Linked DNA regions of Homo sapiens: all the other regions are linked to region 1. Evidence: fine-mapped expression QTL. A gene starts in region 1. Each other region holds a variant in brackets. All regions are shown on one strand. Distances are between the middles of the regions.

Region 1 (2,763 bases):
GGTTTGACATGGAATGTTCGTGCCATCTGTTTTTCTCCGCTTGGATTCCCTTGCTTGATTTGTCACTGAGCAGCAACCTTCAAAATCCTCTCTCAGGTTTTTTTGTTTTGTTTTGTTTTTGAGATGGAGTCTCGCTCTGTCACCCAGGCTGGAGTGCAGTGGCGTGATCTTGGATCACTGCAACCTCCGCCTCCCAGGTTCAAGCGATTCTCCTGCCTCAGCCTCCCCAGTAGCTAGGACTACAGGCGCGTGCCACCACGCCCAGTTAATTTTTGTATTTTTATTAGAGACACGGTTTCACCATGTTGGCCAGGATGGTCTCCATCTCTCGACCTCGTGATCCGCCCACCTCTGCCTCCCACTGCATTCCAGCCCCGGGGGTGACAGAGCGAGACTCCATCTCAAAATAAAATTAAATAAAGGAGATTAAGAAATTACTCAGGCCGGGCGTGGTGGCCCACGCCTATAATCCCAGCACTTTGGATCTGCTGCCCTCTCCCGGCCAAAACATTAGCTGGGCTATAGCCCTAGGGAGGCTGAGTCGGGAGGATTGCTTGAGCCCAGGAGGCCAAGGCTGCAGTGAGCCGTGCTCACGCCACTGCACTCCAGCCTGGGCAACAGAGCAAGACCCTGTCTCAAAAAAAACAAAACAAAAACAAAAAACACCAAACCCAAAAATACAAACCTCAAGCTCCCAGAAGCTAATCATGATATGCTTACTGACATCTAAACTGCAAAGTAGTTGAAATATTAACCTCATGTAAACCCACTTAAGTAAATAAAGCTACATACAAGCAATTCTGTGTGCAGGGTGGCCCGAGGCACTTTAAGGGTTGTGGCTTGGGGATTATTAAGAACCTCCTAGAAATAATTCTTTCCTAAATGGTCAGTTGATGGTGAGCGCTGAAAAGCCGATGGGTACTGCTCGGCCAAGGGATTGAAAAATCGGCCTTTGAGAAGAACAAAGTCAAAATGAAAGATTAGATTATAATTTCTCTGGGGTGGTGCCAGTTGGATCTAGGAAACTTAAACTCGTGAAAGAATGTGCTTAGAGCAGAAGATAGAAGCTGGTGGCTGTCTCTGCTCCCCTCTACCTCTCTCCCGGGTCCTGGGTCTCCCTAGAGGGGCGTCCGACCCGCGGCAGCCCCACTCCCAGCTCGAATCCCTCCCTTCAGGTCGCTCCAGGGCGGGCAGCCAAGGTGGGCCTCCCCAGGCGCTGTGATCCACATTTCACCTCCTAACAACCGGCCTCTCGGCCGGGGTTGAGGACTCAGCGAGGCCTTGACTCCGTGGGTCTGGGCAACAGCCGGCTCCGCCCCGCCCCGCCAGCCGGGTCCCTCCCCATCCCGCGACCCAACGGTCGTTCCCCGCCGCCGGCCCCGCCCCTCCCTGGCCGCCCGCGGCGCGCCGGCGCCTGCGCAGTCGCCCCAGAGCGCCCCGACCGGGATGGCGGCCGTTTTGGAGTCGCTGCTGCGAGAAGAGGTGTCGGTCGCAGCCGTCGTGCGGTGGATCGCGCGCAGCACCCAGGGTTCGGAGGTAACAGCGGTGACACGCCCCCAGGTCTGACTCGAAGCCGGTTCCCGCAGTGGAGTCCAGCCCTCCAGTCCCCTTCCTCTAGGGCGCCTGGCTGCCAGCCGGGCCGAGTGCACTCCAACTGGGCGCCGCTGCCCGGGCCGCCCACCCGAGGCGCGCCCTACGGCCCCGGCTGCTCACGGCCCGCGGGCCGGCGGCTGACCCTCTCGCCCCTCCACCTGTGCTTCTGCCCTAGGATAACGCTGGGGAGGCGGCCGCGCTGAGCTCACTCCGGGCCCTGCGGAAAGAATTCGTACCGTTCCTGTTGAACTTCCTGAGGGAGCAGAGCAGCCGCGTCCTCCCGCAGGGGCCCCCGACCCCCGCCAAGACCCCGGGCGCCTCGGCAGCCTTGCCAGGGAGGCCGGGAGGCCCGCCGCGGGGTAGCCGCGGGGCGCGCAGCCAGCTTTTCCCTCCGACCGAGGCCCAGAGCACCGCTGCCGAGGCCCCTCTGGCCCGCCGCGGGGGCAGGAGGCGGGGCCCGGGGCCGGCCCGCGAGCGTGGAGGCCGCGGCCTGGAGGAGGGGGTCAGCGGGGAGAGCCTGCCCGGAGCCGGGGGCCGGAGGCTTAGGGGCTCTGGCAGCCCCAGCCGCCCCAGCCTCACGCTGTCTGATCCGCCAAACCTCAGCAACCTGGAGGAGTTCCCTCCCGTAGGCTCGGTTCCCCCCGGCCCTACAGGGTGAGACTCAGCTCTCATGCAGGAGATGGGTACCACGAAGGCTCTGGGGAGTCAGTCATTCGAGCTCGGCGCTCCGCAGTGGAGCGCCAGGATGGGTAGAAGGCTGGGGGTGATGGTGAGGGTTTTTGTGGGGTTTTTTGGCAAGAGGTCTAGCTGTTGCGGTGGTGGAGGGGAGATGTTTGAAGATAGGAATTTGAGAAAAACCTGTGGCTACTCTCAGCAGGACGAAGCCTTCTCGCAGGATCAACCCAACTCCGGTGAGCGAAGAGCGGTCACTCTCCAAGCCCAAGACCTGCTTCACCTCACCCCCAATCAGCTGTGTCCCCAGTTCCCAACCCTCAGCCCTGGACACTAGCCCTTGGGGCCTTGGCCTTCCCCCAGGGTGCAGAAGTCTGCAAGAGGAGCGAGAGATGCTCAGGAAGGAGCGGTATGGCCTGGCCGCTCCTGGGGATATCGGTTTCCTCGCTGTGGGGGATCTTCAGGGGTTTTCCCTGAAATTGATTTCCCTCTTGGGGA
Region 2 (2,763 bases), 72 kb before region 1:
TTAATACATCCTGAGAAACATGGTGAAATTAACTTATGATGAGAGTGTCAGCGTGTGTGTTATGTGTTTCATCCCTCTGGATGGACTTAACTTCATTCGAGTTTTAGGTTTATTCATCTTGCAACAGATTTTCCTATTCCTGCATGATTCATTCGGCGTATAGAACTGCTGACAGTTGAAATTATGTAAATTCTATAGCTAATTTGTTGACCAGAAGGAAATGTCCAACTAGGTAATGCATCTGTCAAGGGCTTTAGGGCAGCATATCATATGTTAATATGCTATGGGACAGCGGTCAGTGAAAATTGGCTCCATTTTGCCTGTGGTCAGAGAATCATTTCCTTAGAGCATCAGTTAATGAGCCTTAGAAGGGTTGACTAGGTTTACTACAAATTACATCCCTAACCCCAACCAGCGGTATTTCAGAAGATTCTGTTGCTCTCAGGGAGAATTTGGTCAGGGCTTAATACCTAATAATTGCTACCACTGAAAACATAAATGCGGCCACACATAGATTAATAAGAATATGTATTAGTATATCATCCTTATTTACAAAGGACAATACATAGACTTTACTGCATGTTAATGGTAGTTAAATTCTACAGTGTTGTCAGTGTTGTGCAGTCAAAAGACTAAGAAGTATCTATAGCACAGTAAATGTATTTGCATATAGTAATTATTGCTCTGTGAAATTGCTGCTTTTGTATAAGATACAAACAGGATATAAAGCAAAGAGGCAACATACAGCCTTGAGTCCTTAGAGACCTTAAATTGGTGAGTTTGTCTTCTCATGCATATGCCAATTTGTGTTGTAAGCAATAGGGACTGTCTAACAAATTGAGAAAATACACTGTGTGTGAGTTGTTTTGGAATGTGTTCTTATATTTGTCTTTTGTATGTATTTTCTGAAATGTATACAGTTCACATTACTTAAAGCAATGAAATTATACCTGTAAGACTAGATTCAAGAGGAGCTGAAAATTGTTCCAACTTTCCCATCTTGAGTGCTAATAGTTTCTTATTGACAAAATTTGCTTAGGGGAATTTAGGACAGTAAAAAACTTTGATCACATTCTCTTCTTAAACCTATATCTAAAGAAGACTATCATATTTACCAGCTGAAGTTTGAAACTTAATGATTATTTTAAACTAACAAATTATTGTTCTCAAGTTTTTCAGTTGGACATTCTCCTAAGGGCTTTTCTATCACTTAATAACAAAACAAAGTTTGGTAATTTTCCATTTTTGAAAGAAAGAGAACAGGCATAACATTACTTTGTTTCACAGATTCTGTAAATAATCCAGCTCTTTCCTGCTGTGATCTTTC[C/A]TAAGCAGTGAGTGAGAACAGAGGGCAGGTGGACAGGAGAAGGATAATTGAAAAAAGATGTTATGTAAGTGATGGGTGTGTTCTAATGACTAGTATCAATGTGACATCAGGTTTCAAAAGCCTGAGCTTTGCAGCTTCTGCCTCTTGTTTCTCTACTCAGTCTTCATCTTGAGAAAAATAACTCTACTTTTAATCTGAATGGTCTCGTGAATTCATGCTGTCCCTGTGATTAATTTTACAGTTTGAGATTCATTCCTGAATTTGATTTTACTTACTGTTCTTTCAAGATTTTATTTTCTTCATTTAAAAAAATTTTTTGAGACGGGGTCTCGGTCTGTCAGCAAGGCTAGAGTGCAGTTGGTGCAAACATGGCTCACTGCAGCTTCAACCTCCAAGACTCAAGTGATCCTCCCACTTTAGCCTCCTGAGTAGCTTGATCTACAAGTGTGCACCATGCCTGGCTTTTTTTTTTTATTTTTTTTAAAGCAGAGATGAGGTTTCCCTATGTTGCCCAAGCAGGTCTCAAACTGGCCTCAAGCAATCCTTCTGCCTTGGCCTCACAAAGTGCTGAAATAGCCAGCATGAAGCCACCATACCTGGTCTTTTCTTTCAAAATTTTAGGTTTCTCATGGGACAACCAATAAAGTTAAAAAAAACAATAAACCTCCTCCAGCAACAAGCAAAAAGCATATCCATATTAAATATGACTGCTTCCCTAGCTACATCAAAGGTCAAATAGCAATGATATGTTTCCAGCTTTGTCTATTCTGAGCTAAGACCAAAGTCAGTTTTTTTGTTATAATCAAAGTGTTAAATGATGCAGTTTTACAGAGCCACTTTCACTTTGTGTATATTTTATAAATCTTTAAAAATTGGAATATCTTGCCATAGAATATTATTACTTCAACACGTTGCACATGGCCAACACCTCATCCAATAGCTGCTGCTGTTCACTTTGACATCAGTTGTGGACCTAGAGAGAGTAGCTATTTTGTTTTCTACCAGGAATCTTTCATGTGTCTCTCACTTTACAGTAAAGGTCGAAATTTGCTTTTGAGAAGTATTATATTATTTTGGGAAATTACATCAAGTTTATCTGTACTTAGTATTTATGTATGAGTCTGTTTTCCTAACTAGCTTTTAAATCCTGGAGAAACAGCCATGTCTTATTTTTTTAACCCCATATTACACCTGGCACCTAAATTTTCAACAAATGTTAGGCAAATTTAATTAAGTCTTTACTTTGGATCAACAGTCTCCTACACAGAGAATACAAGAAAAATTAACCCTATAAGTGCATAAATAATGTTTTCTGTCTGTTAAAATAAATGTGAAGATATCAGAATTATAAACAAGATTAAAGCAGATATGTTCCTATAAATATTGTTTTTGTCAGATTCTGAATATTATAACAACTATAAGAGACAGAGTGGGCC
Region 3 (2,763 bases), 270 kb before region 1:
TGGGCAGTTGCAGCTGTGCCCGGGAGCACGGGGCTTCTGCCCTGCAAACTTGGAAGGGGTGGGGTTCCCTCCTGTTCCCAACCCAAGGGCTACATGGAGCACGTTGCCCCAGCCACGCCTCCACTGCTGCAGCGACATCTTTGCAGGAGCTGCTCTAGACAGAATAATACCACCTACCTCATAGGATTATTGTAAGGATTGAGTAAACATGTAAAGTATTTGAAACAGTGCCTAGCTTCACAATCAGCATGTTACAAATATTTGCTATTATTTAAATATTATTGTACGCCTCAGTAGATCTTGAGTTTTGCCCAGTCAGTAAGAGTAGATTCTAAGAATTGCTGAATCATTAAGGTGTAAGTTTTTTAGTTTGAATAGCGACCAAAATAGAATAGAAACCTAAATGCCTAATGACAGGGAATGGATAAAAACTATTATGGCACATACAGTAAGAGCTGTGCAACCATTTAAAATGTTTCTGAAGAAGTTTTAATGATGTAAGATACTATAAGTGAATAGAGCAGGATGCAGATCTGTGTAATGTGATCTTATTTATATGAAGAAGTATATTATAAATAGAAAGCAGACCTAGAAGGAAATATACAAGGTTACTAGTAGGTATCTCTAGGTTGTGGGAATATAACACTTTTTTATACTATTATAGATTTTCCAAAATTTATTCAATAAGCCTGTATTACTTTTATATCCAGAAAAAAAAAAAAGCCCAGCTTATTGGTATAGTAAATTAAGTAAAATTATAATATACATTCCATTTTATCATCTGTTTTTTGCACTTAGCAACACTTGTATTTTGTAATAAGCAAATAACTGATAAAAGCCACAAAGGAAAGGGGGAAGCTTTTAACTTAATATTGCTAAATATCATTTTTATTTTTATTATCTTTCTTATATTTCTTGCCTATAGTTACTTAAAATCTACCAAAATATGAAGACAAGTGACCAAAACATGTGTCCTCATTTCTGATCATTTCTTTTGGTAGCACCCCAGCAGTCAGTGACTACTCTAGAATTGCTTTGGGTCCTAAACGGGGTCCATCTGTTACTGAAAAGGAGGTGCTGACGTGCATCCTTTGCCAAGAAGAACAGGAGGTGAAAATAGAAAATAATGCCATGGTATTATCGGCCTGTGTCCAGAAATCTACTGCCTTAACCCAGCACAGGGGAAAACCCATAGAACTCTCAGGAGGTATGTATTATTTAATAAATATCCTTTTGTGCATTTCTTTTCATGCCTGTGTAATTAAAGAAAATACTATTTGAAAAACATTTGGAAATAAGGGTTATATATCTACCATACCATTATCATATTTAAGAAAGTAATAATAATCCAGGAATATTATCTAATATAAAATCAATTTTTCTCCAACAGTTCTCAAAATGTCTTCAATTCCTAGACTTTTTTTTTCACTTAGGATCCAAACAAACACGTGTTGCTTTGGCTATATTTCCTTTACTCTATTTTAATCCAGATTAGTCCCTCCTTTTTTTATGATAGTAGCTTTTTTGAAGAATTCAGGCCACTTGCTTTGTATAATGT[G/A]TCACATTCTGAATTTATCTGATTGTTAAGTTGCCTCCTGATTAGAATCATGTTAAACATTTTCTTGGCAGGAATGCTAATTAGATAATTTATTGCACTTATTACATCAGGAATTAGCTGCTTTAGCATCATTATTATTTTAAAATATCCTTGGAATAGGCCAGACATGGTGGCTCACGCCTGTAATCCCAGCACTTTGGGAAGCCGGTGTGGGTGGATCACTTGAGCTCAGGAGTTTGAGACCAGCCTAGGCAACATGGCGAAACCTCGTCTTTACAAACATATTAGCCAGGCATGGTTGCATGAGCCTGTGGTCCACAACAGGGTGAGACCCTGTCTCAAAACAAACAAAACAAGCTCCTTGGAATAATAGTGATAATAAAGACTAGCATTTATTGAAAACTTAACATTGCCAGGCACTTGTTAAGTGCTTTATGTGTATTTACTTACTTAATCCTCACAACAGCCCTATGAGTTAGTTATCACTATTAGTTCCATTTTATAGATGAAGGACCTGAGGCACAGAGAGGTCAAGTAACTTACCCATGGCCATGAGTTACAAGTGATGAAACCAGAATTTGAAATCCTCAATCTGTGCTTTTCTTTTCTTTTTTTTTTTTTCTTTTTTTTTTTTTTAGTATTTATTGATCATTCTTGGGTGTTTCTCCGAGAGGGGGATTTGGCAGGGTCATAGGACAATAGTGGAGGGAAGGTCAGCAGATAAACATGTGAACAAGGGTCTCTGGTTTTCCTAGGCAGAGGACCCTGCGGCCTTCCGCAGTGTTTGTGTCCCTGGGTACTTGAGATTAGGGAGTGGTGATGACTCTTAACGAGCATGCTGCCTTCAAGCATCTGTTTAACAAAGCACATCTTGCCCCGCCCTTAATCCATTTAACCCTGAGTGGACACAGCACATGTTTCAGAGAGCACGGGGTTGGGGGTAAGGTTATAGATTAACAGCATCCCAAGGCAGAAGAATTTTTCTTAGTACAGAACAAAATGGAGTCTCCCATGTCTACTTCTTTCTACACAGACACAGTAACAATCTGATCTCTCTCATTTCCCCACATTTCCCCCTTTTCTATTCCACAAAACCGCCATCGTCATCATGGCCCGTTCTCAATGAGCTGTTGGGTACACCTCCCAGACGGGGTGGTGGCCGGGCAGAGGGGCTCCTCACTTCCCAGACGGGGTGGCTGGACAGA

The links. PIP is the estimated chance that this variant, and not a neighbour inherited with it, causes the effect.
Region 2: its variant is fine-mapped to the expression of CDAN1 in whole blood (TOPMed, PIP 0.99).
Region 3: its variant is fine-mapped to the expression of CDAN1 in whole blood (TOPMed, PIP above 0.99).

Annotation. Positions count from the first base shown.
Region 1 is chr15:42,735,786-42,738,548 of GRCh38, reverse strand. It overlaps CDAN1 (codanin 1), which reads left to right and starts at 1,421. Exons shown (of 28, transcript NM_138477.4): 1 at 1,421-1,536; 2 at 1,769-2,247; 3 at 2,471-2,674. The coding sequence starts at 1,447. RefSeq lists silencers at 1,235-1,484, 1,675-1,814, 1,905-2,194.
Region 2 is chr15:42,807,733-42,810,495 of GRCh38, reverse strand. The region is part of intron 9 of TTBK2 (tau tubulin kinase 2); the gene reads left to right. Among named protein-coding and RNA genes, the nearest start is that of TTBK2-AS1, 70 kb to the right of the region's middle. The variant C/A (reference allele first, on the strand shown) is at 1,328.
Region 3 is chr15:43,005,523-43,008,285 of GRCh38, reverse strand. It overlaps UBR1 (ubiquitin protein ligase E3 component n-recognin 1), which reads left to right. Exons shown (of 47, transcript NM_174916.3): 30 at 1,002-1,207. Among named protein-coding and RNA genes, the nearest start is that of TTBK2, 86 kb to the right of the region's middle. The variant G/A (reference allele first, on the strand shown) is at 1,559.